Linked DNA regions of Homo sapiens: all the other regions are linked to region 4. Evidence: fine-mapped expression QTL. A gene starts in region 4. Each other region holds a variant in brackets. All regions are shown on one strand. Distances are from middle to middle.

Region 1 (7,697 bases), 130 kb after region 4:
TCATTTTGTATTGCCACTAGCAATGTAAGAATGTAACTATTGTTCTGCATTCTTGCTGGCACTTGGTATTATCAGTGTATTATAAAAGCCACTGAATAGGTGTTTAGTGGTATCTCATTGTTGATTTAATTTGCATTTGTGTAAAGATTAATGATATTGAGCATATTTTCATATGACTGTTTGCCATTTATATGTCTTTTTTGGTGAAGTGTCTTTTTTGCCTATTAACACAAATGTCTTTTCTTACTGATTTTTGAGAGTTCTTTATATATTTTAGATATAGCTCCTTTATTAGGTATGTAAGTGATGAAACAAATGGATATTTTTAAAAATGGGACTAGCTTTTTGGGCAACTATGTACAATTGTGAGGTAATAACCCTGCACCTTCACATTCTCATTATTTTCTTACTATTGTTTTAAAATTAGCTGACACTTTAAAAAGGCTTTCTATGAGTTACGCATTATGCTCGGTATTTACTTGAATGATTGCAGATATTTTCTTCCAGTCCATGTCTTCTTTTATATATATATTACATATTATATATAAATATATTATATATTATATATTATATAAAATATATTATATATAATATATTATATATTATATATTATATATAATATGTTATATATAATATATTATATATAATATATTATATATTATATATAATATATATATTTATTTTAAATATATATTTTAAATATATATTTATTTAAATATATATTTTAAAAAATATATTTAAAATTATATTTATATATAAATACATATTATAAAATATATAATATATATATAAAAGACATGGACTGGAAGAAAGTATCTGCAATCATATATATTTATATATAATATATGTATAATTATATATAATGTATATTATTATATATAAATTTATATTTATATATTATATATAATTATATATTTATATATTATATATAATTATATATTTATATATTATATATAATTATATATAATTATATTATTTTTAATTTTAGTTATTATATAAATTATATATATTTATATATAATTATATTATATATAAATATATAAAATTTTGTTTGTTTGTTTTTGTTTTTGTTTTTGGAGACAGAGTCTTGCTCTGTTGCCCAGGCTAGAGTGCAGTGGTGTGATCTAGGCTCACTGCAACTTCCACTTCCCTGGTTCAAGTGATTCTCCTGTCTCAGCCTCTGGAGTAGCTGGGATTACAGGCGAATGCCACCACGCCCAGCTAATTTTTTGTATTTTTTTCCGTAGAGATGGGGTTTTACCATGTTGGCCAGGCTGGTCTCAGAACTCCTGACCTCAGGTGATCCGCCTGCTTCGGCCTCCCAAAAGGCTGGGATTACAGGTGTGAGAGCAAAAGTTCTGCTCTTGAAGTAAAATTTATCATTTTTTTGCCACCATTTTTTCCATAGATCATGTTTTGGTCTAAGAAATCTTTGCTCAACCCAAGATTGCAAAGATTTTCTATGTTTAAGTGGATAAGTTTTATAGTTTTAAGTTTGAAACTTAGGTGTATAATCTGTTTGAAGAGTTTTTGTATGTGGTATGAGTTATGGGCCAAGATTATTTTTATCACGTGTATGTTCAGTTGTTCTAGCACCATTGGTTGGAAAGAATATTGTTTCTGTAGTGTTTTGCCTTTGTAATTTTGTCAGAAATGCCTTTGACCATAAATGTGTGGGTCTGTTTCTGGACTCTTTTCTTTCCATTGATGTATGTTTATCTTTTTGCTATTATCACTTTCTCTTGATTACTGGAGCTTTATAGTAAGTCTTTAAGTAGTGTGACTCTTCCAACTTTCTCTTTTCAGAATTGTTTGACTATTTTAGTTCTTTTGCCTTTTCATGTAAATTTTAGAAGCAGCGTTTCTATTTCTACAAAAAATAAATTCTGCTGGGATTTTGATAGGGAGAATACTGAATCTCCAGTTGAGTTTGGAAGAGAATTGATATCTCAACAATATTTAATCTTTCCATTCATGAACAGAGGATATCTCCATTTATTTAGTTCTCTCTGATTTCTTTCACATATACACACACATATATTCCTTCACATATACACATATATACATACACATATATGTATATACATATATGTGAAAGAAATCAACCTATATATTTAATATACAGAGTCTGTGTTTTGTTGGATTTGTACCTAAGTATTTCTCTTTTGTTATTTTGGATTTTTTTCCCTTGTCTTTTGGATTTTGCTTTATCATAAATGGTAGTTTTTTTTAAATTCAATTTTCAGTTGTTTGCCATACACAGTTGATTTTTGTATATTGACCTTGTATCCTGTGATTTTGCTAAATTCATGTACTAGTTCTAGTAGTTTTTGTTTTTGTCTTTGAGACGTTCTCGCTGTGTTGCCCAGACTGGAATGCAGTGGCACGATCTCAGCTCACTGCAACCCCTGCTTCCTGGATTCAAGCGATTCTCCTGCGTCAGCCTCCTGAGTAGCTGGAATTACAGGCATGTGCCACCACGCTTGGTTAATTTTTGTATTTTTAGTAGAGATGGAGTTTTGCCATGATGGCCAGGGTGTTCTTGAATTCCTGACCTCATGTGGTCTGCCTGCCTCAGCCTCCCAAATTTCTAGTACTTTTATTATAGATACTTAAGGGACTTTCTACACCATACATTCTGTGTCTAAATGAGGTTATTTTATTTTTTTCTTTCCTATTCGTTCGCCTTTTATTTCTTTTTCTTGCCTTATTGCACTGGATAGAAACTCCACTATGATATTGAATAGGAGTGCCTTGTTCCTGGTCTTGGGGTAGAATATTCCATGTTTCACCATTAAATATGATGTTACTGGTAGGATGTTTTGTTTTGTTTTGGTTTGGTTTTGGGGGGGAATCAGAGACAGGATCTCCTTCTGTTACCCAGGCTGGAGTGCAGTGGCACAGTCATGACTGACCACAGCCTTGACTTCCCAGGCTCAGGTGATTCTCCCACCTCATTCTCCCAATTAGCTGGGACTACAGGTGCATCCCACCACACCTGGCTAATTTTTTATAGTTTTGGTAGAGACAGAGTTTTAGCATGCTGCCCAGAATGGTCTTGAACTCTTGGGCTCAAGCGACCTGCCCCTCTTGGCCACCCAAAGTACTGGGGTTACAGGCATGAGCCACCATGCCTGGTGGGTTTTTTGGATGAACTTTATCAGGTTGAGCAAGTTCTTTTATTCCTAGCTTTCTGAGTTTTTTTTAAATCCTGATTGGATATTGAATTTTGCCAGGAAATTTATCTGTGTAGTCTATTGAGATAATTGTGCAGACCTTTTATTTCTCAATTTGGTGAATTACATTGCTTTCTGACTATTGAACCAGCTTTGCATTGGTGGGATCAACCTCAGTTGCTCATGGTGTATTTCCCTTTTTACATATTGTTGGTTTTGATTCTTCGATTTTTTTTTTTTTTTTTTTTGAGACAGAGTCTCACTCTGTTGCCCAGGCTGGAGTGCGGGGGTGCAGTCTTGGTTCACTGCAACCTCTGCCTCCCAGGTTCAAGCAATTCTCCTGCCTTGGCCTCCTGAGTAGCTGGGACTATGGGCATGCGCCACCATGCCCGGCTG[A/AT]TTTTTTTTTTTTTTTTTTCATATTTTTAGTAGAAATGGGGTTTCGCCATGTTGGCCAGGCTCATCTCAAACTCCTGACCTCAGGTGATCCCCCCCGTCTTGGCCTCCCAAAGTGCTGGGATTACATGTGTGAGATTTTTTAAAAGACTTCTGCATCCTTATACATGAAGAATATTGATCTGTAGTCTTCTTATACTGTCTTTGTTTTAGTATCAGGGAAGTGCAATTAATGGCCTCATTAATTGATTTTATTAATTTAATTTGATTTTTCTCTAAGTGGTTGTATAGAATTGATGTTATTCTCTTAAATTTTGGAACAATTTGCCAGTAAAACATCTGGCCTCAGATTTTTTTTTTTTTAGTGAGAGGCTTTAAACCATGAATTCATTTTTATTAGTAGTCATATGTTTACACAGCTTATCTATTTCATCTTAGGTGAGTTTCAAGAGTTTGTTGCTTTTGAGGAATTTTGCCACTTCACATAAGTTGTCAAATTTGTGTGTGTAGAGTCATTCATATTATTATTGCTTTATTTACTCTTAGCATTTGAGATGTCTGTAATGATATTTCTGCTTTCATTCCTGATAATGTTTTGATTTGTGCTTTCTTTTTTGCATTTTGGCAGTTTTGCTAGATGTCTAGCAATTTTCAAAGAAAGTGTTTTTAGTTTCATTGATTTGTTTGTGTTTTTTAATTTTCAGTTTCATTAATTTCTGCTCTTGATTATTTTCTTCTTTCTGCTTGTTGTACATTTATTTTGCTCCAGTTATTGATTTGACACCTTTGTTTTAATAAAAGTATTTCATTCTATAATTTTCCCTTATCACTCTGCTTTAGTTGCATTCCACAAATTTTGGTATGTGGTGTCTGTTATTTTCCTTCAATTCACAATATTTTCTTGTTTTTCTTGAGACTTCTTCTTTGACCCAAGGATGATTTAGAAGGTTGTCTACTTTTCAAGTGTATGGAGATTATCTTTCTGTTATTAGTTTCTAGTTAAATTCTCTTATATTCAGAGAGCATATGTTTGGTGTATTTTTAGTTCTTTTAAATTTGGTTTCTCAAATCTGTAGGTTTGTGTCTTTCACCAAATTCGGGGTGTGTTTATCCATTATTTCTTGAAATATTTTTTCTGCCCACCCCTATCCTTCTGTGACTTCAATGACAGGAGTGTTAGCTCTTTTATTACTGTCCGCATATGTTCCTGAGCAGGCTCTGTCAATTTTTTTTGACCAATCTTGTTGCTCTTCATCATTCAGATTGGATAATTTTTGTTGATCACTCTTTAAGTTTATTGTATAATCTGAAATGCTAGTATTTAGCCCATCAATAGTGCATTTTAAAATTTTGGTTTTTGACTCTTTTCAGGTCTAAAATCTCCATTTGTTTCTACTTTTTATATTCTGTTTTTTTTTTTTCCCCCTGAGATTTTCTCTTTGTAGTCCCTTCAAGAGTTTATTCTTTTGGAGAATTTTAATAACAGCTCTGTTAAAATCTCTTCCAGTTCTACCTTCTGTGTCATTTTGGTGTTGGTGTTTTTTGATTGTCTTTTCCTTTGTGAGTTGACATTTTCTCCTCTGTTTAGATGTTGAGTAATTTTGGATTATATATTAGATATTTGAACGTTGTATAATGAGATTCCTGATCTTCTTTAAATCTTTATTTTATTTTGTTTTTAAACAGGCAAACAATGTGGTTGAGTTTAGGCTACAAGGTACAGCTAGCTGTCTTGATTGTGGTTTTAATGCCAGCTCTGTTTTCAAAGCTTTTGCCATGCTTTCCAGATCTGTTCTGAGTATACATCTTCCAGAGGCTAGTCTGGGACCTGGGAAGTGATCTTAGGTTATTTTTCAAAGTCTTTGCTATGCTGTTTAGGATCAGATCCAAGCAAGTGCTGCTCAGGGATGAACCGATGAATTTACAACAGCTTTATGGAGCTACTTTACTCAGTTCCTGGTATTTTGTGACCTCTGGTATTTTCTGTTTTGCTGGACTTCTCTTTTTTCCTCTATCCTTAATGCTGTTGTTTTATTTTTTCTATTCTGCTGTACACTTCCCACAAGTGCACCTGCATTTAATGCAAAGCAGTATGTGCTTGTGTTGTCTCATATTCCTTGGGGTTCCTGCATTGCAGTTGGGAAGAAGACATTTAGATATTTGGAAATAATTCAAATTTTACAGTCTGTCTCTCTTCTCAAATATACTTGTAGGTAGGACTGGCGATGCTTTTATATGTCTAGGCAGTAATAACGGAGATGAACTTTTTACTGAGATGAGTCCTGTAAAACTCACTTTACTTTCTTTATTTCTTAATTTTTAAAAATGTGTTCCGAGAATATTGCTATTCATTAGAATGTTGCCTATGTTCTTAGATCAAAGTCTTAATGTCCATTTGACACCACCATAGAAAAGTAATTTATCTATGCTGGAAATTTGGCAAACACTTACTCTCTTGACTGTCAATCAGCATTACCTTTTGAACTGCCCTAAATACACATTTAGAAATTCTGGGCCCCATCCCTAGAGATTCTGTGTCAGTGGGTATACAGTACAATAAATTAAGAAGAAAATAACCTGCATGCTCACCTCCCCTATTGTAGACATTATCCATGGTATGGGAGAACCAGAAAAGATATATCTGAGGAAGATTGCAATGTTATGTTCCTTGAAGGTTGCTGGTTCAGTCACTGGGTTTACTGAGGCAGCCAGGAATCATGAACAAATAAGGTGTTGAACCTCAGTTGTGCTGCCTTAGTCAGGGGCTCAGTCCTGATCAAGGTAGCACGTCATCCAGTTATATTCTTCACTGGTTCATTTTTCTTGAGGCTGTCTTTCTGAACCATTGAGCATGTGGTTTCTTAGTACTAAACCAGTTCAGCAAAGGGTGGAACTTAGTATTGTCATCCTATTTTATTTATAATGTTTTGGAACAAAAATCTTTATTTCAGCCTTTTTTGAGGCATGAGATACATCCAGTAAAGTGGTTAAGGTGTACCAATCTTAAGTGTACAGCTCAAGCTTTTCATATGTATGTTTAACTACCGTACACTCAGGACATAGAACATTTCCAGCTTCCTACTAGGTTCCCTAATGTTCCTTCTTAGTCAGTAACCCCCTTCCCTTTAGTCTACCATCATTCTTCTGATTTCTAACACCATAGATTAGTTTTGCCTTTTCTCAGACTTCATATAAATGGAGTTATGTGATATATATCCTCATGTAGCTAGTATTTTTAATTCAGTTATTTTTGCTGCTAAGCCTTACTGGGTTACTTAATATTATTGTTTATGGCTCCTTGGTACTCAAAACATGTCTAAACCAAAGCAGATTCAGTTGACCTTTGTTTTACACTTTTCCTAGGTGAAACAGTCTTAAAATTCTTTAGGAAATTTCTCATAATGCTTAATGGTTCTGTATTTCAGCCGCTTATATAGTATCCGTTATTTACTTCCACAGATTATTCTTGCCGTAGCTCCCTTTTTTCTTCTTCCACATTTCCTTCTAACAGTATATATAGGGGAAATGAAGATTTCTAAAATTTTGTCTCCCATTTGTTCTTCACCATGCTAGCATTTGGTCTTCACCATGCTAGCATTTGGTCTGGGTAAATTCAGGTTGAACTGAATGTCCACAATTACTATATTAATCTAGTGTTTTTCTTCCCTTCTTTCTGACAGCATGATGGAAGTGGTTCATTGCATGATATTCAACTGTCATTGCCATCCAGTCCAGAACCAGAAGATGGTGATAAAGTATATAAGGTATGACTATGTAGTCATGCTGGATTTTTCAAAATTCTTTTTAAATACTAAAATAATGATACAATGACAATGAAAACAATAATAAATGTATTAATACCTAAAGCATCAGGTTTGTTCTTAACTTTTGCTACTTTGTTAAGTTGAAATGATATCTCTGTGGTGCTTTAATTTGAATTTATCAGTTGGATAATGATCTGTCCTTGTATTACTACTGTTGCAGGATTTAAAAAGAAAATATATTGCTCATAATGATAAATGATAAGAGTTTTTAAAATATGAGTAGGAATGAAAGTTAAAATGGTTATAGGTGCTTCTCATATATAAATCCCAAAATTGAAGAAGTATACTGAAAATGAGATTAATT
Region 2 (7,697 bases), 190 kb after region 4:
TAATACCCGAGAATGTAAGGTCTCTAAGTCATTACTAACAAAGAGCAAAAATAATATCTGCAGTATTGTTTTTCCCATTGATTTTAAGTCAGTTTAGAGTACAAACTGTATATTAGAATTTGCCTGTAAAATGAATTCTAAAAAGCAGATGTAAAGTCTCTCCTGAAAATGTTGGCATAGTAAATAAAAATAAAGTTCATAATTATAAAAGTTCTCTTGTCTTTCTCAACATTGACTCCCATAGTTTGCTTTTTCTTTGATATCTTTTTTCCCACAAAGATCTAAGATACTGTTCATTTGCTTATGTTTTTCCCAACTCTGATACTTTATTTTACATGCTGCCTTCACACACATCTTGACACCCCAAGCCCTGATTGAGTAGGAGTTGATCAGTATTTTGTTGTTGTGTCTTCACAAATTCTGTAAGAGATCTAGTACTTTCGTTTCCATTGTAATAAAATACCTGCTTTATCTTAGAATATTGGGATAATGGTTAATGGACATTTCAAGAAACATTAGCACCTTGGATTTAGAATGCTGTACAAGGAAGAAAACACTTGTAATTTTAATTATTTTGTCATTGTTTTTAAGCAGTATACAAAATAGCTTGAGGCAAGAAAGGTGTTTAGTGAAATTTTACATAATTTTTAGGAACAAAAGGAGTAAGGAATATATATTTTTTCAGTTTTACAGTTTAGTCAGATGCGATAGTCCCGTAATAAGAGACAAAAAAGTTGATGCAGTGGTATGTTATTAATCCAAAATGTTTACACGAATTCTGGGAAAGGAGGGAAATTTTATTAATAGTTTGATAATAGCACTTATTACCTCTTAAGACACCTGTATGAACTTTAAGGCCATCTGAGTTCTTAGTGTTGCAGAATTTTGCTCCTTAGGTCGGCTAAATCGGGGTTCTTGTGTCAGGACCAGGAAAATGTAGACACATGGACACATTGAAGTGTGTGGGGAATGGAATTCATTGGGCAAAAAGGAAAAAAAAACTCAGCAAAGCAAGGGGGGAATCCTGCTAACAGGCCCCCACCTCACAGATAAGTTCCAGGCCACCACACATGTGAGCTGAAGAGCTCAGGCTCTTCCCTCCTGCCCAAGGCTGGAACTTCCCGTGGCTCCACCCAGTTCTCCCAGTGCACAAGCTGGTTGGAGATTCTCTGAGGACCCTCCCCCTTATTGGCCTTCTGCATCTATCATTAGCAAGTACTTTCTTATACTAAAAATTTTCCCTTTTAATTTTGTCATTAAGTGTAGTCATTTCAGTTTCTTCATTTATGCTGTTGATTGCGCGTTTTCCATTGTGAAAATATTTTATCCCTACAGAAAAGACAAGCATGAGTTAAAGAATTGACTTCTTCCTCTGTTAACTTGGTTTAAGTAAGTTTGATGGGATGTCTTACCTGTGTCACTTGCTGTGCTGGCTGCAGGGTGTACAAAGGTAACGATGATACAGGTTCTGCCTTATGGAGCTTAGGAACCCTAGGGGATTTTTAACATCATCCGATCCATTGCAGCACTGAGCCCTTCCCTTGCATTCCCTGTTTATTATCTTCCTTTGAACCTACCAGTCTCTTTTGACGTTTCCTCTTCAGTTTCATTTCATTCTGGGCTTTAACTCCCTTGCACTATTCTCCTCTTGGATTCTATATTATGTTTATTCTTGTTTGGTTGCATGCCTTCATTTCCCTAGAAAACCTGGCCTTTTATTATTTTATCCAAGAACGAACTTCCTCTTTAGCCACTATTAAATACTCTGCTTTCTACTTTAGGTTCTTGGAATTTGATTTTAAGACTTCTCGACTATCCTAAGGCCACTGTCCCTTTTAGAACCTCAACCCATAAGATGTTGCTTTCTGAAGTCTACCTTTAACATTCAAATTCATGTCCGGGCTTTTCCTTCCATCCCATTCTCTTGGATAGATCAAATATAATATGGTCTACTTGATGTTTTCAGTTTCTATTTTAATTTTTAATTTTTATGGATATATAATAATTATACATATTTATTAAATACCTGTTATTTCGATACAAGCATACACTATAATCTGTGTAATTGGGATATCCATTGCCTCATTTATTTCTTTGTGCTAGGAATATTTCAATACTACTCTTCTGGTTATTTTGAAATATACAATAAATTATTGTTAACTATGGTCACTGTACTGTGCTACTGAACACTAGGTCCTATTCATTCTAACTGTATTTTTGTACCCATTAACCATCCCCTCTTTATCCCACCTCCCCACCACCCTTTCCAGCCTTTGGTAACCACTATTCTACTCTCTACCTCTGTTAGATCATTTCTTTTTTATCTTCCACATGAGTGAGAATGTGCAACATTTGTCTTCCTGTATGTGGCTTATTTCACATAATGACCTCCAGTTTCATTCATGTTGTTGCTGGTTTCCTACCATTTCTTGCCATGGAGTCTCTAAGGAGGAATTTAGGTCATCCAGAGAAGCCTTTTCCTCACTGATGAATTCTCCCACCCACCCATGCACACAGCCCTCAAATTAGCATCTTTTCTGTGCAAAAATCAGAGAGGAAGAAACAGTTCCTCACAGGCACTTCTCTGGTTTCTCAACCTGAAAAATGGTATTGCTACTTTCCAGATCTCAAAACAACCCACTCCTTAATCCTCACATGAATTCATTCAGACACCCATTTTGAGTATGAATAATCCTTTGGTAATACTTTAAGTGATTACAGAACAAATGCTTTCTGCAGCAAAAGTATACCTGAAATATCAGTCTACTAAAGTGAAAGGTAACTATTCCCCACAAGAAACATGGTTGAAATGCTTGTTTTGTGCACAGCCCTCGTTTCTGTCTCGTGGCAGGAGGTGGATGAGACGGAGACCCTGCGATTGAAGAGATCAAATTGCAACATGACAAGAAGGATCCCAAACAAAGCACTGTAAGAGAGCCAGTGGGCAGGAAGGGGACGTTTGGGACCACAGGTGAACTCGCTTCCAAAACCATTCATCCTTGACAAATGTGCATGTGTGTTAGGATTTCTTTTTAATTACAGCTAAATAAAAACTAGGCCACTATCACATAACCTGTAGTGGTAACGATACATTCCACGAACCTGAGGCCTTTTTAAGCACGTATCAGTTCAAAATACTTCTGAATTATCAGGAATTTAAAAAATTTTCACAAGTTTTAGCTGAGGTTTTGCATTTATAGTAGGTCAAGTGCAAATGTGAATTGCAATGAAAAACAAAAGTAATAGGAGTTGTGATGGATTGTTAATGCAAATGGTTTCTTAAATTGTGTTCCAGAGTTTTGCTGAGATGCAAACACAGATGCTCTAAACTCCCTGCTGCCAGGGGCCGCCTCCACCAGGTTCAAAGATTCAGGACTAGTCAGAGCTCACAGGAGGTGTTTGGGAAAGGGTTTGGGCCAGACCTGGGCACTCAGAACCCTGGTCCTTGGTCTGACTACTCTCATTCTAAGAAAAATTTCAACTAAGG[G/T]AAGGAAAGCAGAGCACACAGTGCTTTCCTGCCTTTCAGAGCTCGTAAAGAATTCAAGGGGGAAGCAAAGGAGACCATGGACTTAGAACTATTTGTGAATATTACAAGAAGCATTACTGAAGTCACAGAACAAACCACCAAAGTACAAAGGGCCAATATAACAGAACAAATTAATGATTTTTGCTATTAGTCAAAGAGATGCAAAACAGAATGGCGTGCTACTTACATACCTTTACATGCAAAGAACTGTTTAAAAGAGTGGAGCATTGGAAAAAAAAAGTCTGACAGTAGGAGAATGATTACATTATTTATATGACAAGATGATGCCACAGTCAGCTAATGCTCTTGGGGAATATTTACTCAAAATATGTATAACAATATTTATTCAAAATATTCATATTACAACTGAGGACAAAAGCAAATTTACGAATCCATGAATGTAGTACAATGTGAATACATATATGCTTATAAATACCTATATAAAAGAATAACTTCTTAATGGCTGAATTATTGGCCATTTTTTAATCTTTTTATATATTTTCTGTTTTTTAAAAATGGTGAGACTATGCTCTTATAATCAAAATTGCATGTGTATGTCTGTGTGTTTAATAACAGGGTCATTTCTGTTGCCCAGGCAACATTTGTAAGGCACCTGGCGTATAGGCATCCAATAATTAATCTCCCTTGCCACAGATTTAATGAGTGGTCTTTGTCATCATGGGATGATGTTTCAGAAAATTTTAAGTCACTTATTCAATGACATAGCAAATGGCCTATCTCCCTAACCTCAAAACTAGTAAGACTGCATTATTGTTTTACTCCTTTTTTTGTTCTGGTAATTGGGGTTGGGAACACATTACCTTATGAATCAGGATCCGTCCACTGTCAGTGACAAAATCTATTTCTGCCAAACTTGAATAGTTTGTTCCCTTAGCATGGAAGCTTGGAGAGATTCGTCCTTATTTATGTCAACCCTTCTCTGTGTTCTTTGTGTAGTATTTTCTTATTAGTCATCAGTTCCGTCTACACCATCCCAAATAGGAGTGCCCTAAACAAAATCTTTATAGACTGACAAGTCCTTTCCAGCGTCCTGCTGCATGAGGGCTGTTTGCTGTGGGATGTCAACTCTTAGTATATTAACTGGACCTTAGTGCGTAGTGTGACGGAATGCAAATTGCATTGAACACATTTTTATAGCATGGCTTGTGGTGCTGGAAACCAGAAAAGACAGATCCCAGGGCTTTGCCCCACACACTAGTTACAGGATTGAGGATTCCTCTGGTTTGTTCAGCCACTGCTCTGCTGCCTCCTGCCTCCCAGGCTGGGATGAGCTAAAGAACAGGCCATCTAATTCTGCTCACTGGTTTCGAGCCACGGAAGGAGACCTTAACCTTTAATTATAACGTTTACTTATGGTTTCCTTAAAGCTAAGCCAGTGCTACTCTGGTTTGGGGTGAGTGGGGAAAGCCTACTAGAGTCCAGTTGCCCAGCTCTCAGCAGCACAAGGCCTGGTCAGAGCTTCCTTCCTTAAGGAGCAAACACACAAGACTGCATGAAAGAAATAGGACAGGAAAAGGAATCCTAAAGCAAGCAACTGTGTTAAAATCCAAGCAGGTATTGACTTCTTTTGTACAAAGAAGTAAAATTTTTCCCACAACAACTACTTTTCTCTTTTTATCAATATTTAATTTTCTGTAACCACACTTCACCACCACTTTTCTAATAACTTTTAACTGCAAAGTTATGTGACCATTTTTCTCTGCCTGAGAAAATGGGATTTTTTTTTCTTTTCTTCTGAATACTGCCCTCCCCGCAGCCCCTCCCAACCCCCCGCCCTGTGACAACCTCAGAACATCAAAGGCAAGTGTTTTATGCACCGTGTACATTCACTGTCTGGCTCTCTGCCAGGCTGGAGGGGAGAGCAGAGACTTGTGCTGGCCAGGTCAGGCTCTGTGCACAGGGATTTGGGCTGCGGGGGAAGCTGCTCTTTATCCTCTTCTGCCTTAGAGCAGGCAAGATGGGAACACTCTTCTTAGCATCTTTTAATCCATGTTGTCTGTGCTCTGTCACTCCCGCTTCTGAGTATTCCCAATAGTCAAAAGAATTTTGCCCAGTTTCCCTCAGTCCTTTGCATTACACATTATAAATTACATTTGAAGACACATCTTTGCATAAGGCATCAGGCCCTGTAAGCCACCCCATCCCCATCCCCACTCAACACTCACTGGTGAGATGATAAGCCATTTTTTAAATGTTTATTTTATTTTATTTTTTTGAGATGGAGTCTCACTCTATCACCCAGGCTTGAGTGCAGTGGTGCGATCTTGGCTCACTGCAACCTCCACATCCCGGGTTCAAGGGATTCTCCTGCCTCAGCCTCCTGAGTAGCTGGGATTACAGGCGCCCGCCACCACTCCTGGCTAATTTTTTTTTTTTTTTTTTTTTTGTAGAGACTGGGGTTTTACCATGTTGGCCAGGCTGGCTTTGTACTCCTGACCTCAGGTGATCCACCCACTTTGGCCTCCCAAAATGCTGAGATTACAGCATGAGCCACTGTGCTTGCCAAACCATTTTTTTTCAAGTAGGTTAGTTTTCAAAAGCTGTGTGGTCTCATTTTACTGTTTTTTGTTTGTTTGTTTGTTTGAAGAGTCATTACTTTATTGAAGCACATTTTACATATATAATTTATTCCAAGTATACAATTAAGAGATTTTTTATAATAAAAAAATTAGCTGAGCCTGGGGTGACATGCACCTGTGGTCTCAGCTACTTGACAGCCTGAGGTGGGAGGATCACTTGAGCCCAGGAGGTCAAGGCTGCAGTGAGCTGTGATTACACCACTGCACTCCAGCCTGGGTGACAAAGTGAGACCCTGTCTCAAAAAAAAAAAAAAAAGATTTTTTAGTAAGTTTACCAAGTGTGCAACCTTTGCCATTTAGAATATTAGAATATTTCCATTACCCCAACTGTTAATCTCTGCCCCCTCTTGATTAAGCCAAGCATCATCTACTTTTTGTCTCTATTTATTTGCTTTTTCTGGACCTTTCACATAAATAAAATCATATCAGATGTATTCTCTGTGTCTGCTTTCTTCCACTTAGCATAACAATTTTGAAGTTCACCAAAAATCATAGCATGAATCACATCATTTTTATTGTTGAATAATATTCCATTATATGAGCATACTTTATTTTGTCTATTCATTCACCAGTTTGTAGACATTTACATTGTTTCTAATTTTTGGCAATTATGAATACTACTGCTAGCAACGTTTATGTGTAAGTCTTTGGACATATTGAGAGAGGAGGAAGGAAGAAACCCATCAGGCAGGCAATTAAGGGGGGTCCTGGGTTGAGTTCTTTCAGACAAAAGAACAGCCTGCAGGCACAGATAAGAGACCTTGCACAGTGGGGCTAGCCTGAGACATGCCCACAGCCTCACAGATAAGAGCGGCTATACAGGAGATTTGTCTAGACATGCCTGCAATGGAAAATTCTGTCCCCTGACACGTGCACAGTAAGGGGAACAAAACAATGTGGAGTAACTCAAGCTAAGGACCCACATGCACATTAGGAGTGTTACCAGGGGGTCCTTGCTCCCAGAGCTCTCAAGATGGTGGCAGGCCGCTACCAAGATAGCGGCAAGCCTCTTGTTCTCTGACCTGGGATTCTTGGCCTCATGGATTCCAAGGAATGGAATCTTGGGCCATGCAGTGAGTGTTATAGCTCTATTAGAAGCCGTGGGTCACGGCAGAGAACTGTGGAACCCAGCGACTAGGGTTCAGCTCGATTAGGACAAACCTGGGCACTTAGCCATGGAGGAACAATGGCAAGCCTTTAGCCTGATCGGGAGTGGCAATGGGTGCCTCACTGGATCGGGAGCACAGCGGACACCCTGCCAGATCCGGAGGGGTGGAAGTCAGCGGCGGGTATGCGAGGGCGGCAAACAGCAGTGGTGGATGGTGAGCAAAAGCTCAGCTCGAGCTGTAACACAAACATGGACCAAAACAGTGTGCAGTTGCAAGATTTAAGAGTGAAAACAGAGCTCCCATACAAAGGGAGGGGACCCAAATGGGGTAGCCGTTGCCAGCTCGAATGCTGGGTTTATATCCCGATCATTGTCCCTCCCGCTGTGCTCTGAGGCGATAGATGATTGGCTATTTCTTTACCTTCTGTTTTTGCCTAATCAGCATTTTAGTGAGCTCTCTTTA
Region 3 (7,697 bases), 40 kb after region 4:
AGTGCATCAAAGACAGCATGGCTACCAAAATGAAGCAGACTCACAATGTCTATTTTATTTTATTTCAAAATTATAAGCAAATATAAGGGAAAATTTCATGAACTTTTAAAGACAGATGGTAGCTCATCAACGAATGAAGTGATAATATTCATAACGTAAACTTCATAGTGGAGCTGTCAGACTAGTTTATCTTAAGACCAAAGTTCAAGATGATTGATGTGATTTGTGTTGCAATTATTTGTACATTTAGAAATCGTTATTCTTCATAGAGAATAGCACATTCAGGTTCTAACATTATTCTTTTCCCCCACAAACTGGTGGAACCACAAACACCAGTAACAGTGTGTCTCTCTTGTGGGCTCATCTTGTGCCTCTAAGTTATTAATACTGAAGATGCTCTTGGGAGATAACATGTATTACCCTCATCTTAGGCAGGAAAATAGAGGCATAGAGAAAGGAAAGAATATAATTTTCTTTCCGTGGTCTACTTGTGACAGGCGGGGAAATGTTAAAGCCTTTCTGACTCACAGGCTCTTTAATCTTTAACATGTATTATTTATTGATTTGCAAAATGACCCTAATATGTAATATCAATACCAGTTTTCTTATGTTTATACCGAAAGTGGTTGTGGGTATGGTAGTATGTTTTGTGGAAAAGACCATTATCAAAAATGAGGAAGACAGTTGTCTGGCATGGATATTGCCACTGTCCCTTGCTCTGCTCCTGGCAAACATTGCTGCTTGATCATGTCACTACTTCAGAAGCTAGATTTGACCTCAGCATCCTTTTTGTTTTTTAAAAATTTTAATGTTAAATTTTTAGTAGAGATGAGGTCTCACTATGTTGCTCAGTATGGCCTTCAACTCCTGAGCTCAAGCGATCCTTTCGCCTCAGCTTCCCAAACTGTTGAGATTACAGGTGTGAGCCACTGTGCCCGGCCTCGGAATCCTTTTCAACATATTGCCCAAGGGAGCTATTACCAGTCAATCACAGGTCCACAAAACAAAGTTCTTTTTTAGTCTTTCCTTACTGTTGAATTAATTTACATTAAGAGATTATGAATTTACTTAAAAGTTGAGGATCTATTAAATTTGTAGTCCTGTAGCTGGCCTCAAAGTACAGTATATAAGACTTAGTTTATGTTCTCAGCAGGTTTACTTTCCTGTGGGTCAAATAGACATGCACACAATTAGAAGACAAACTCAGCTATATTATTGCTGTGAAGAGAATAGAGAATGATGTAAGATTAATTTTAACTGGAAATGTTGGTGGATGTGGTGATTTTGGACTTTGAGGATAGAATCTTCCAAGGGGTCTTTAGCAAAGGCAAAGAAGTTAGAAAATATAGGATGGATTTTGGGCAATGACAAATAACGTATCTTGGCTTAAGTATATAACAAGGATAAGGTAGAATCAAATAGAGTAGCTTGCTCCCTGTACAATGAGTTTTGGGTTTTATTTTGTTGTTCCTAGTCTCACAGATGGTTTTTAATCAGTAGAATGACGTGATCCAGATCTTTGCTTTAAGAAGATAACTGCTGACAGTTTGAATAGAAGTAAGGTTGGAATCTTGACAAATGTAGGAATCCTTGGTAGTAGTACAGGAAGAAATGATGAGCATAAGAACTAGAATTGTGGAATGGAAGTGGTGAATTTAGAATAAATTTTTAATGGTAAAATTAATGTGATTCCTACAGGATTAAGTTATCCCCAGAGGCTCCAGCATTTCTTTGGAAGGTTATCCAGTTATTTCCTTTGTATATTCCAAGTTTAAAAAATTTTTTAAAGGTGATTTTTTTTCTCTACTTGTATTTCTGGAGAATTATTTCTTTATCCTTGGTATTTCATTAACTTAAATAGGATACGTATTTGCATCTGTGATTTGATATATTTTTTCTTTCCCTCCATAGATTTTTTTTCACCTTTATTTTAGGGATATTTTCTATTATGTCCTCCTGCCTTTTCTCTTCCATTTAATTAGTTATTCTACTTCAGGGATACTAATTATCTTTCTGTTCAGCCTTTGTCCTACATTTTCTTTCTAATTCAATATCTTTGTCTTTTTTTTCTCCTCGATACTTTTTTTTTTTTGAAACAGGGTCTCACTCTTTCAGCCAGGCTGGAGCGCAGTGGCTTGATCACGGCTCACTGCAGCCTCAACCTCGTGGGCTCAGTTGATCTTCCCGCTTTAGCCTTCTGAGTAGCTGGGACAACAGGTGTGTGCCACCATGCCTGGCTAATTCTTGTATTTTTTTTGTAGAGATGAGGTTTTGCCATGTTGTCCAGGCTGGTCTCACACTCCTGGTCTCAAGTGATCAACCCACCTTAGCCTCCTCGATATACTCTTGTTACCTTAAGATTTTTCTCCTTGCCATTTGTTTAAGTCTTTGCTTCTTTTCCTTGCTTTTTTTTTTTTTTCTTTCAAATTCATTGTTCTTCTTAATTGGTTTCCTTAACGCTGAAGCCTTTCTTTTCAATTTACCTGTTTTGTCTTTTCATCTTTGGGCTTTTGTTTCATTAGATGCATGTTCTTATTAGGTTGTTCTGTGTTACAAGAAACTGTTTATATGATTGTATGGGCATTTCTTTTTGTCTTGCTCAGGCTTAATTTGGATACCTAGGTCAAGACTTCGCTTTTGCCCTTCTGTGGCCCTATGCTTTCCCATCTCCTTAGATTGCGTTAAATGTCCTATACCAGTCTCATTTCATACTGCTGAGGGTACAGTACATGTCTATGGGCTTCAGATCCTTCCCTCAACTCAGTATAGGGACTTAGAAGTTGGCAGATCCTGGTGATGCCTCTGCCTAGGTTTTGAAGCCTCTGTGCTCGGGATATTTTTCCTCAACTTTTGTAGGGCATGGCAAATCAAATTTTTTCTATCCAAACTAGAGGTATTTCTTAAAATTTTCAAGTTTTTTAGTTCACATTTCTTTCTCACTACTGCTTCCAGGCAGTAATCAGGCTGCCAGTCATACTGTACCATACAGAATTTTTTTCTGTCCGCTACTTTTTAAACTTTATAAGTTCTTAGTTTAAATAGTTTTTTGTATTACAGTGTGTAACTGATAGGTTTTCTGCTGAAAAAAACCACATACACACAAATATATATATATATCTCTTAGTTGTTGGTAACAGGACGTTCTTTAGTCTTTTTTCACTCTATACTTGAACATTTGTACGATTTTCTAAATATTTACTTTTGACATAATAACATGTATTATAGGAACTCTACTTCTTAGGCCAGGGTTGACTTGGAATCAGTTGTTTTAAAAATAAAAAAAAATTCTCATGACTTTAGTAATTAAGGTTTTTCGAATGTCTTCTAGCTTTTATAAAACCATGTATTTTTTT[A/T]AAAAAATAATATGTTCTTTAATTACCTTTTATTTCACTGGCTTTAAGGGAACAGGTGATTTTTGGCTGCATGAATGAATTGTGTAGTGGTGAAGTCTGAGATTTTAGTGCACGTGCCACCCGAATAGTATACATTGTACCCTACTACATTGTGTAGTTTTTAAAAAATCTCTCATCCCTCTCCCATCATCCCCCTTTCTGAGTCTCCAGTGTCCATTATTCCTCTCTGTATGCCTTTGCATACCCATAACTTAGCTCTTAATTACAAGTAAGAACATGTGGTATTTGGTTTTTCATTCCTGAATTACTTCAGAATAATGGCCTCCATCTCCATCCACGTTGCTTCAAAAGATATTATTTCATTCTTTTTTATGGCTGAGTAGTATTCCATGGTGTATTTTTTTAATTCACTCATTGGTTGATGGGTACTTAGGTTGGTTCCACATCTGGCAATTGTGAATTTTGCTGTGATAAACATACATATGCAGGTTTTTTTTTTTTTTGATACAGTTTTCCTTTGGGTAGATACCCAGTAGTGAGATTGCTGGATCAAATGGTAGATTTAGTTCTTTGAGAAATCTACATACTGTTTCCCATAGAGGTAGTACTAATTTACATTACCACCAGCAGTACCTAAATGTTCCCTTTTCATCACATCTATGCCAATATCTATTGTTTTTTGACTTTTTAATAATAGCCATTCTGGCTGGGATAAGGTGATATCTCATTGTGGTTTTAATTTGCACGTCCCTGATGATTAGTGATGTTGAGCATTTTTTTTTCATGTTTCTTGGTCATTGTATACCTTCTTTTGAAAAATGTTTGTTGATGTTATTTGCCCACTTTTTGATGGGATTATTTTTTTCCTTGCAGATTAGTTGGAGTTCCTTATAGATTCTGGATACTAATCTTTTGTTAGATGCATAGTTTGCAAGTATTTTCTCCCATTCTGTGGGTTGTCTGTTTACTCTGATTATTTTTTGCTGAGCAGAAGCTTTTTAGTTTAATTAGGTCTCATTTATTTTTTTGTTGCATTTGCTTTTTGTGTCTTAGTCGTAAATTCTTTGCCTAGACCAATATCCAGAAGAGTTTTTCCTAGGTTTTCTTCTAGCATTTTTATGGTTTCATGCCTTGGATTTAAGTCTTAAATCCATCTTGGTTGATTTTTGTATATGGTAAGAGATAGGGATCCAATTTCATTCTTCTACATGTGGCTATCCAGTTTTCCTGGCAACATTTATTGAATAAGGCGTTCTTTTCCCAATTTTCATTTATGTATGCTTTGTCAAAGGTCAGTTGATTGTATTTGGCTTTATTTCTGGGTTCTCTACTCTGTTCCTTTGCTCTATGTATGTACTTTTATACCAGTACCATGCTGTTTTTGTTACTATAGTAGCCTTGTAGTATAATTTGAAGTTGAGTAATGTGATGCCTCCAGATTTGGTTTTTTGTTTAAGATTGTTTTTTGGTTCCATATGAATTTTAGGATTGTTTTGTCTAATTCTGGGAAAAATGATGTTGGTATTTCGATACAAATTGCATTGAATCTGTAGACTGCTTTGGGCAGCATGGTCATTTTCATGATATGGATTCCTCTAATGCATGAGTGTGGGATGTATTTCCATTCGTTTGCATTGTCTGTGATTTCTTTCAGAAGTGTTTTGCACTTCTCCTTGTAGAGATCTTTTACTTCCTTGGTTAAGTATACCTAGGTATTTTATTTTATTTTTTTGCAGCTATGGTCAAAGGGATTGAGTTCTTGATTCTCAGCTTAGTCATTGTTGGTATGCTACTGATTTGTGTACTTTGATTTTGCAACCTGTGACTTTACTGGATTTATCAAATCTTGGAATCTTTTGGAGGAGTCCGTAGGATTTTCTAGATATATAATCATATCATTGGCAAACAGAGATAGTTTGACTTCTTCTTTTCCAATCTGAATGCCTTTTATTTCATTCTCTTGCCTGAGTGCACTGGCTGTGGCTTTCCATATGTTCTTATTTTTAAAGGAGAGACTTTTACCCAAAATGAAAAAATTATTTGGATTGGAAATTGGAAGAAGTACTCTGTAAGTATTATTTTTTACATAGTCAAATTTGGTGGTTTAATTTTATTTCTAGATTTTGCTGTCATTCATAGCATACATTTATAAAAGTTTATAAAAATGTTCTTTATTTTCTTCCAACATAAAGTTATTAATTTAATTAGTGCATTCGGTATTTGCCAGGAGTTCTGTAGGAATCATGAGTAGCTTTTGGGTTTTTCTGCGTATAAAAGTGTAAGTATCATATTATGTAATAATTCATGTAATTATCCTTATTTAGGAATGTTTAATGTACTTCTTTTTTCTCTTCACAGATTCTTTCAACTTTTAAGAACAAATGCACCTTATAGCTCATGGAAGAAAAAACACAAATCAAGACATTTTTGGGTTCCAAGTTGCCAAAGTATGGAACAAAATCTGTAAGAAGTACATTGCAGCCAATGCCAAATGGGACACCTGTTAATTTATTAGGAACTTCCAAGAATAGTAATGTCAAAAGTTACATCAAAAATAATGGCTCTGATTGTCCATCATCTCATTCATTTAATTGGAGGAAAGCAAATAAATATCAGCTTTGTGCACAAGGTGTCGAAGAGCCTAACAATACTCAAAATTCACATGATAAAATAATTGATCCTGAAAAACGTGTTCCTACTCAAGGAATGTTTGATAAAAATGGGATAAAGGGAGGTTTGAAAAGTGTTTCTTTATTCACATCAAAGTTAGCAAAGCCATCCACTATGTTTGTGTCATCTACAGAGGAGTTAAACCAAAAGTCTTTTTCTGGACCATCTAATTTGGGTAAATTCACCAAAGGCACATTATTAGGAAGGACTTCATATTCTTCGATCAATACTCCAAAATCACAGTTGAATGGATTTTATGGAAACCGATCAGCTGGTAGCATGCAAAGGCCTAGAGCGAACTCCTGTGCCACCAGAAGCAGTTCTGGAGAAAGCTTAGCTCAATCCCCAGACAGTAGTAAATCTATTAATTGTGAAAAAATGGTAAGGTCACAAAGTTTTTCACATTCCATTCAGAATTCATTCCTTCCACCTTCATCTATAACCAGATCACATTCCTTTAATAGAGCTGTGGATCTTACAAAGCCTTATCAGAACCAACAGCTATCCATTAGAGTGCCTCTACGGTCAAGTATGCTAACAAGAAATTCCCGGCAGCCAGAAGTACTCAATGGGAATGAACATTTGGGGTATGGATTTAATAGGCCTTATGCTGCTGGTGGAAAGAAGTTGGCTTTACCAAATGGCCCAGGTGTAACTTCTACTTTAGGTTATAGAATGGTTCATCCCTCTCTACTGAAATCTAGCCGATCTCCATTTTCTGGGACTATGACAGTTGATGGAAATAAAAATTCACCTGCTGACACATGTGTAGAGGAAGATGCTACAGTTTTGGCTAAGGACAGAGCTGCTAATAAGGACCAAGAACTGATTGAAAATGAAAGTTATAGAACAAAAAACAACCAGACCATGAAACATGATGCTAAAATGAGATACCTGAGTGATGATGTGGATGACATTTCCTTGTCGTCTTTGTCATCTTCTGATAAGAATGATTTAAGTGAAGACTTTAGTGATGATTTTATAGATATAGAAGACTCCAACAGAACTAGAATAACTCCAGAGGAAATGTCTCTCAAAGAAGAGAAACATGAAAATGGGCCACCACAGGATATGTTTGATTCCCCCAAGGAAAATGAAAAAGCCTTCAGTAAAACTGATGAATGGATAGATATAAGTGTCTCTGGTAAATATTACTTACCTTAAGTTTTTTTGCTTTCTTTTAAATAATATAACTGAACTTACATTTAGGATTATCTTCAGATAGATTTCAAGATATTATCAGTTTCACGGAGGGATAGATCTAGACAAAATTGAGGTGGGTTAACGTTTATTTTCCTGTGACTTTTGCTCCATACCCCATTTTTCACCCTATCCAAGACAATATTAATAAAACCACTCTTAACCTTTGTTGTTCTTTGGCTGTTATACACAGCCTATTCCTGCTTAGTATATGCAGTGCTTCTAAATGACTTCCCCTGCTTACCTCAACCAGTGTGGTATGCCATTAAACAAACCATCTCTTCTCTTAGGATAGCATTTCATTGCTATTTGTTAAGAGTAAAGCTGTACCAAAGGGTACAATGAGATAATATAGGTTATGTCTAATCTCACGGATTTTTTTATCCTAGAAAATTCTTCTTGTTTAGCAATTTTTTAGATACACTTCCTGAGAGAGCTTTATTTATTTATTAAACTGAAGAAAGTGAAATAATA
Region 4 (7,697 bases):
TTTGAGGCTTTGGGACTCGGACTGGCTTCCTTGCTTCTCATCTTGCAGATGGCCTATTGTGAGACTTCACCTTGCAATCGTGTGAGTCAATACTCCATAATAAACAACCTTTCATATATACATCTATCCTATTAGTTCGGTCCCTCTAGAGAACCCTGACTAACACATTATTTTTCATCTTTCTGGGCCTCGCCAATCAATTTAGGGAATGAAAAGAAGGAATTCATTCTACTTTGTTCCCGTTTGTCATCTTCACAGCTGAGAAGCAGGCTTTCTACATCTTCACCAGGAGGCCAGTTTGTGGATACTCTGTCTTTTACTGGTAAAGATGCTCCTTGTTGCTGGATTCTAGATCCAGAAGGCATCAAGGCATGCAAAGTCTTCGAAATTAGGGCCAACAAGGAAAACTTTCTGTGATTGTGGGAGCCGAGAGTTCCCATCATCAGACTGCCTTCTGTGAAGAACTGGTGATTTCTTCTAGAAAATCAATCCCATTGACTCCTGTCCTTGTTCATGACTTAATCCAGAACAGTGCCTGTGGATGCTCAGTAAATATTTGTGAGATGAAAGGGGGAGATTTCTCTTTTAATCTTATTTATTTACAGATGGGATCTCACTGCTGCCCAGGCTGGAGTGCAGTGGTGCAATCATAGCTCACTGCAGCCTCAAACTCCTGAGTTCAAGCAATTCTTCCACCTCAGCCTCCTGAGTAGCTAGAACTACAAGTGTGCACCACTACATCCAGCTAACTTTTATTATTTTTTATTTTTGTAGAGATGGGGGGTTCTCACCATGTTGCCCAGGCTGGTCACACTCCTGGCCTCAAGTTATCCTCCTGCCTTGGCCACCCAAAGCTCTTGCTTGAGCCACCATGCCTAGCCAGGAGATTTCATCAGAGATTCTTGTCTGTTGTATTTTTTTTTTTCTTAGAGACAGGGTCTTGCTATGTTGCCCAGGTGGGGCTTGAACTCCTGGCCTCAGGCAATCCTCCAGCCTCAACCTCACAAGTAGCTGGAATTACAGGTGTGTGGGACTGCACCCAACTTGTCTGTTTTTGGATGGTCTCCAGAATCATCTCCTACTGGGGCTCTGGATCAACTGTTTCATTGTGCTGTTTGTCATGGAATCCTAAAACTTCCCCTGAAAGAATGTCTCTCTCTTACATCAAGAGGATGCCAAAAAAGGAGAATTTAGGTTGCAGATGGAATTAAGGCTGTTAATCAACTGGCCTTAAAATAAGGTTCTTATTCTAGAGCATCCAGTTGGACCCAACATAATCATGTGTCCTTAAAAGTGGAAGACTGAGACAGAAGAGGAGGTCAGAGTGATGCAATGTGGGAAGGACTCAAACTACTCTTGCAGGTTTTGAAGATGGAGGAAGGGCAGGCCGGGCACGGTAGCTCACACCTGTAATCCCAGCAGAGGCCGAAGCGGGCGGATCACTTGAGGTCAAGAGTTTGAGGCCAGCCTGGCCAACATGGTGAAATCCTGTCTCTATTAAAAATACAAAAATTAGCTCGGCGTGGTGGCACATGCCTGTAATCCCAGCTATTTGGAAGGCTGAGGCAGGAGAATCGCAGAACCTGGGAGGTGGAGGCTGCAGTGAGCCCAGATCTCACCACTGCACTCCAGTGTGGGTGACAGAGCAAGATTCCATCTCAAAAAAAAAAGAAAAGACCCAGGAAAATTAACTGAAAGCAAATAAAACGTATCAAGGATGCTTATAAAATTAGGAAAATACACTAAAATGCTATTGTGATTCTGCTAAGTATGTACATGTATTAGCATTATGGGAAAGTTTTTTCCTAGCCTTCTTTTTTTTTTTTTTTTTTTTTGGAGACAGGGTCTTGCTCTGTCACTCAGGCTGGAGTGCAGTGACATGATCACAGCTCACTGTAGTCTCAACCTCCTGGGCTTAAGTAATCTTACTGCCTCAGCCTTCTGAATAGCTGGAACTACAGGCATATGCCACTAAGCCTGGTTAATTTCTTTTTTTTTTAATAGACTAGGTCTCTATGTTGCCCAGGCTGATCTTGAACTCCTAGGCTCAAGTGATCCTCCCGCCTCAGCCTCTCAAAGTGTTGAGGTTACAGTCGTGAGCCACCACAACTGGCCTGGGCATTTTATTTTATTTTATTTTATTTTTGAGATGGAGTCTCACTCTGCCGCCCAGGCTGGAGTGCAGTGGCATGATCTCATCTCACCGCAACCTCCACCTCCCAGGTTCAAGCAATTCTCCTGCGTCAGCCTCCTAAGTAGCTGGGATTACAGGAATGCGCCACCACGCCCGGCTAATTTGTTGGTATTTTTAGTAGAGACGGGATTTCACCATATTGGCCAGCCTGGTCTTGAACTCCTGACCTTGTGATCCTCCCACCTTGGCCTCCCAAAGTGCTGGGGTTACAGGCTTGAGCCATCGCCTCCGGCCTGGTGTTTGCTTTTCTAATCTCACTTAATCCAAAGAGAGATTGCACAGCATTTAGACCTAGTCTTTGTCAATATTTTAAGCACACATTATTGTCCAATACATTAAATATCTTAGGGATTGATATTTAAAAGACATTATTTTCTAAATATGAAAGTGTATTATTAAATGAAGTGTGGTTATACAAATCAGGCATTCCGTCTGCTTTTTCCATTTGAGTATCATTGATCTGGAGACAGGAAAGAACTGGATATTTTTCAAGCAGTTCTCCTGAAATGTTATTACAACCGAGCTGTTGGGGCCGACGAGGATTTCAGAGAACTGCAAGTCTACAACCAGGTAAGGGCAACTCCAGAGCTTTAAACAGCCGGCCAGGCCCGGAAGCCTTCCAGGCTGAGGACTCTCAGCAGCAGGACTGGCCGCGTCGAGGAAAAACAAGAGGGGAAGAGATGGCCTCTGGGGGATGGAAGCCCCAAAGGGAAGAAAGACCTGGTTTCTGGCAAAGAAACCACATTGGCCAGGAGCTGTGGCTCACGCCTGTAATCCCAACACTTTGGGAGGCCAAGGTGGGAGGATTGCTTGAGCCCAGGAGTTTGAGACTAGCCTGTAAGACCACTTCCCCCAACTCTAAAAAGAAAAAATAAAAATTAGCCGGGTATTTGGGTCAACTTGTGATAGTTTACTTTGACTAGTGTGGTCTTAGTTGTAATTATTTCGGAGGCTTGGTGATACACGCCTGAGGCGAGAGGATCGCTTAAGCCCAGGAGGCTGCAAGTGAGCTGTGATAGCGCCACCGAACTCCAACCTGGGTGACAGGGCGAGACTCTGTTTCAAAAAAAAAAAAAAAAAGGGAAAACCAGATCAGCACTTGGGGTGCCCCTTCCCCTCAGCTTTAGCAAGATCCTGTGTTTTGATGCGGTAGGCAGGTGCGTGGTTCAGTCATGCCCAATGCTCAGACCACTCCTCACTTTTCACATCCAGGAGGAGGAGCTGTCAGGTTTGACCGCACTCAAGCAGCAAATGTAGTCCAGGGGACGGCTAGAGGTGAGGTCAGCCGCAAGACTGGCGTCACTGCGTGGGCCCAGCAAAAACCTGAGTCAGGAGGCGGCCAGGCAAGGTCAGTGGAGGGGGCGGGGCCCGAAGCGGAGGCGGAGCTTGGGAAAGCCTGGCGTGAGGGCGGGGCGGGGCCAGAGGTGGGCTGAGGCCGGATCAGGCGGTGGGGGCGGTCCCCGTAGCCCCGTGAGGCTCGCGCCTGCGCACGGGCCCGCGGCGGGGCGGGACTGCGCGTGCGCGGTGCGCCGGCCCTGGAGGGCGGAGTCCGGGCGGGCGCCGGCCGAGGGAGGGGGCGCGGCGGCTTTGGAGTCCGGCGCTCCCTCAGGCCGCGGACGCGATGCTGGTTGCTGCGGCTCGGGCGGCGGGGCTGGCGGGGATGTGACGGGCGGCCCTTCGTCTCACCTTCCGTCCTCGGGCCCGCAGGTCGCAGGGCGGCCTGCAGCTGGGCCGCGGCCGAGGAGGCAGCGCGACCTCCGCACGGTGAGATCCGGGCTCAGGGCCAGAGCCGGGGCCGGGGTCGCGGCGGGCGCCGGGGGCAGCCCAAGACCAGGCACGCAGTCCGGGGCGGGGCGGAGGCCCGAACTCCCGGGCTGAGGCGGTGTCGCCCTCCCGTACCCGGCCTCCAGGGTGAGCCTCTCTAGCCCCTCGCGAGCCGCCGGACGCGGGGCGGGCGCGGACCCGGGAGGCCGGAGGGCGCCCTCCCTGCGGCTGTGACAGCGCGGGGCCTCGGGCCGCGGGCGCCGCCGCCTTTCAGGAGAAATCAGGGCGAGGCTGAGGCACTCTGATTTCGGAGCCTGGTTGCGTGTGAGGGTGGATAGGGAAAGTACCGGGGCTCCCCGAATGAGTTCGATTTTTTTTTTCTTTCAATTACTGGGCTAAATGAAAGACACACCCTAAAACACATCCTGAGGTGAAACTTTGGTGGGGCACACCGTTGCCGTAGGTTCAGATCTTCTCTCTTGTCTTTAGACATGTATTTTCATACATTTTTAAATAATGCACCTACTTTCTTGATAAAGTAAAAGGAGGAATGAAGGGACTCCTTTGTGGTGGTCCTTGGTGGCGAAGCTTGTTTCCATTTCAGTAATTGCATATTCATCTGTGTGGGCTCCCCGACCAATGAGGCTGGCTGCTCCCAGACAAGGCCTTAGCGGAGTGGAAATGACTGACGCAGGGACTCTGGTCTCAGATTAGAGTGTTGGTAGCTCACTCCTGTAAGAGAGAAATTGAGCTTTAAGCTTTTTAAAATAGCCATATGAAAAGCATTCCTTTTCTCCTGAGCATTAAAATATGACGGAACCTATTCATTTGGCCAGTTGTTTTTTTTAAAGCATCATCTTTTAGACTAGAGACTTTAGAGATGGCAGCTGCTCTTTAACCAAAAGGAACTTAAGATGCTCTCCTGCAAAAGATGGGTTCAAAACATGTCTTATCCGTCATCCATATGTGATAAAAATGTAAATATTCCTGAGTGTTTGCCTGAAATCAGTCTTCTTCCTCTTGGACTTTATTACTGTTTCTCTTAATTTATGAAAGCTTGTTACTGTTATTTTTTGTTTTCGTTTGTGTTCTAAACAACATTGGCTTCAAATAATCTTCAGGTTAAAAATGCACACTTTGTTGAACCCTTTAGCCATAATTCATACTGTCGTACTTCAGCATAAGCCATAGTTAAGAAAGCACTAGAAGCCATCCTGAAAGCAAGCCGAAAGTCTCTATTAAGAATTCTGTAAAAATTCTACCTTTCCACATTCAGACCTGCATTTTTTGTTGCTTTGACTCAACTCCTTTGACTATTTTGGAGGAAGGGACTTTGAATCCATATTTACAAGTCCTTCAGTGACTCTCCATAGTCTATATCGATAAAATTCAAAGTCCTTCATGATTAGCGGTATTTGTCTCCATTCTAGTGTCATCTTCTACCATTATGCCTGCCCTCTCTATATAAGACTGTTGCAGTTCTCTGAAGATGACATCTTCCTCTGTGGTTTTTCAGTGTTCTTTGTTGAGAATTCTCTACCTAGTAAACAACTTGCCCTTGAAGACCTTACGAAAGTAGCACTTCTGAGGCTTGTCTAGACATTTCATCCCTCTTGTCTTAACTGATTCGTACACTCTCCAGTTAGTATTTGTCAACTGGTAGTTAATGATTTGTTTATGTGTCTGTCTCCACCAGGTTTTGGGGTTTCTTTTGTGTTTTTTGAGACAGAGTCTTGCACTGTGGCCTGGGCTGGAGTGCAATGGCCTCATCTCGGCTCACTGCAACTTCTGCTTCCTGGGTTCATGCGATTCTCTTGCCTCAGCCTCCTGAGTAGCTGGAATTATAGGCACACACCACCACACCTGGCTAATTTTTTTTTAGTAGAGACGGGTTTCAGTATGTTGGCCAGACTGGTCTCAAACTCCTGACCTCGTGATCCGCCCACCTCGGCCTCCCAAAGTGCTGGGATTGTAGGCTGGTTAGGAATGAAACCCCAGTTATGTTAAAAAAAATCCATTTTATGATACAGGAATAAAAAGGGCATGACCAATAAAGATTGCTGCTTCATTGGTCCTACAACTTTATTTTGAGGCGCAAAGTCACGCAGGTAGAAAGGGATGGCGGGGATTACAGTCCAGGTCTTTTGACCATCTGTGTATTTCACTTTTGCCCCCAGTCTCCTAATTCTAAATCTTAATTGTTTTACAATTTGAATGGGAGTTGTGAGCGACTTGGATGTGTTCTGAAAAAAGGGTCAATAGAATATTGAACTTGAAAGAATTAACAGATTATTTGGTTCAACTTTAAAAATTTTACGGTTAAACAACTCAGCCTAAAAAGACAACTTGTTTGAGATTGCTTAGGCTCACCTACATCTCATATCTCCTGACCTCATCATTGTGTGTTTTTCACTACTCCATGGTGCTTTGGGGTGAAATGAAGGAGCTGCCAGTTTTTCAGAGGGAGTGCAAATCTGCTTGCACTTTCTCCCTCTTTGAATACATGGCTGCCACTCCTAGGGACTTAGAACCCTTGTGGCTGAGAAACATGATAATTCATTTGGGGATATGGGAGAAACCTAACCTTCACTATTCCTCTCAGCCAGATAGTTTTAACTTCAGTGCTTGGGGCGCTCTCTCCAGATGCCCCATAACAAGTGGCTTCTGATCACCATATGGACATCTCACATACAGTTAAGTTTTGATGGTACAATGAGATTTTAATATAAGAAGGTTGCAGCTGGCTAATAGCATGGCTAAAATTACTTGTGTGGCTTGTCTGTGAGAGGAGCCTATCTTACTCCTATGTGATAGGATTTTGGGGGAAAAAATTGATGATTGTGGCTGTCTCTAAAAAGTTGAAATGTGTACTTAGTGGTGTGGGCCTGACCAATTCCAAAAGGCTTTTTATCTTACAAACAATGGTCAAAGAAATTTTAAAAATCAAAACAAACTTAATTTTTCTTCTTATTTCTTGTCATATCAGTGGTTTTATATGATAAAGCATACACATAATGCTTAATATTTGCTTTCATATTTGATGTTTTATTTTTGCTATAGTTTTTATACCTTTAGATGATTATACAGTGTTACAATGTCATTTCTTAATAATTGGACATCTAGATTGTTTACTATTTTGCAGATAATGCCGTTAGTATATAGCTGTTTATCATTTTGCTTCTTCCCTTTGGGCTAAAGGCCCAGGAGCAGTATTACAAAGTCAGAGGGTATGAAGGTTTTGTTAATTCTGAAAAATATTACTAGATTTACTTCTAAAAGATATTGATTTACAGACTCCAGTAGAGTTTGGTTGACCATTTCTATCATACTTTATAGGTTTTTGCTTTTAAAAGTTTGTTTTTTAAAAATGAGGATAAGGTTCCTTGCAGTTTAACATCATAGTCCATAATAGACAAGCAAATGCAGTATTCTTCTAGTTTTATTTTCTCCTTTATTTGTCCATCGTCCATAAATTTATTGGAATCTTCTCACCAATTTTCATTAGCACTAACATCATAAATATATTAATCTCTTGAAAAACATTTCTGATCTATTTTTTCTTATTGTAGGCTTTATAGATTTTATATTATTAAATTTATTTTTTTATATATATATATATATATATATATTTTTTTTTTTTTTTTTTTTTGAGACAGAGTCTTGCTCTGTTGCCAGGCTGGAGTGCAGCGGTGCCATCTCGGCTCACTGCAACCTCTGCCTCCTGGGTTCAAGCGATTCT

Which allele goes with the higher level. Positions count from the first base shown, and alleles are read on the strand shown. Sizes are in standard deviations (SD) of each study's normalised expression. Not every link is listed here.
For the expression in B cells of the gene that starts at base 3,739 in region 4, allele AT in region 1 goes with a higher level than allele A (moderate effect, 0.45 SD a copy in Fairfax 2012).

The links. PIP is the estimated chance that this variant, and not a neighbour inherited with it, causes the effect.
Region 1: its variant is fine-mapped to the expression of CCSER2 in B cells (Fairfax 2012, PIP 0.95).
Region 2: its variant is fine-mapped to the expression of CCSER2 in whole blood (INTERVAL, PIP above 0.99).
Region 3: its variant is fine-mapped to the expression of CCSER2 in whole blood (INTERVAL, PIP above 0.99).

The regions. Positions count from the first base shown.
Region 1 is chr10:84,456,684-84,464,380 of GRCh38, forward strand. CCSER2 (coiled-coil serine rich protein 2) reads left to right here. Exons shown (of 10, transcript NM_001284240.2): 7 at 7,250-7,333. Among named protein-coding and RNA genes, the nearest start is that of CCSER2, 130 kb to the left of the region's middle. The variant A/AT (reference allele first, on the strand shown) is at 3,573.
Region 2 is chr10:84,518,308-84,526,004 of GRCh38, forward strand. CCSER2 (coiled-coil serine rich protein 2) reads left to right here. Exons shown (of 10, transcript NM_001284240.2): 10 at 1-210. Among named protein-coding and RNA genes, the nearest start is that of CCSER2, 190 kb to the left of the region's middle. RefSeq lists enhancers at 6,814-7,315, 7,316-7,697. The variant G/T (reference allele first, on the strand shown) is at 3,488.
Region 3 is chr10:84,365,303-84,372,999 of GRCh38, forward strand. It overlaps CCSER2 (coiled-coil serine rich protein 2), which reads left to right. Exons shown (of 10, transcript NM_001284240.2): 2 at 5,712-7,167. The coding sequence starts at 5,751. Among named protein-coding and RNA genes, the nearest start is that of CCSER2, 41 kb to the left of the region's middle. The variant A/T (reference allele first, on the strand shown) is at 3,354.
Region 4 is chr10:84,324,851-84,332,547 of GRCh38, forward strand. CCSER2 (coiled-coil serine rich protein 2) reads left to right here and starts at 3,739. Exons shown (of 10, transcript NM_001284240.2): 1 at 3,739-3,958. RefSeq lists a silencer at 3,503-4,232 and enhancers at 4,283-4,632, 5,680-5,759.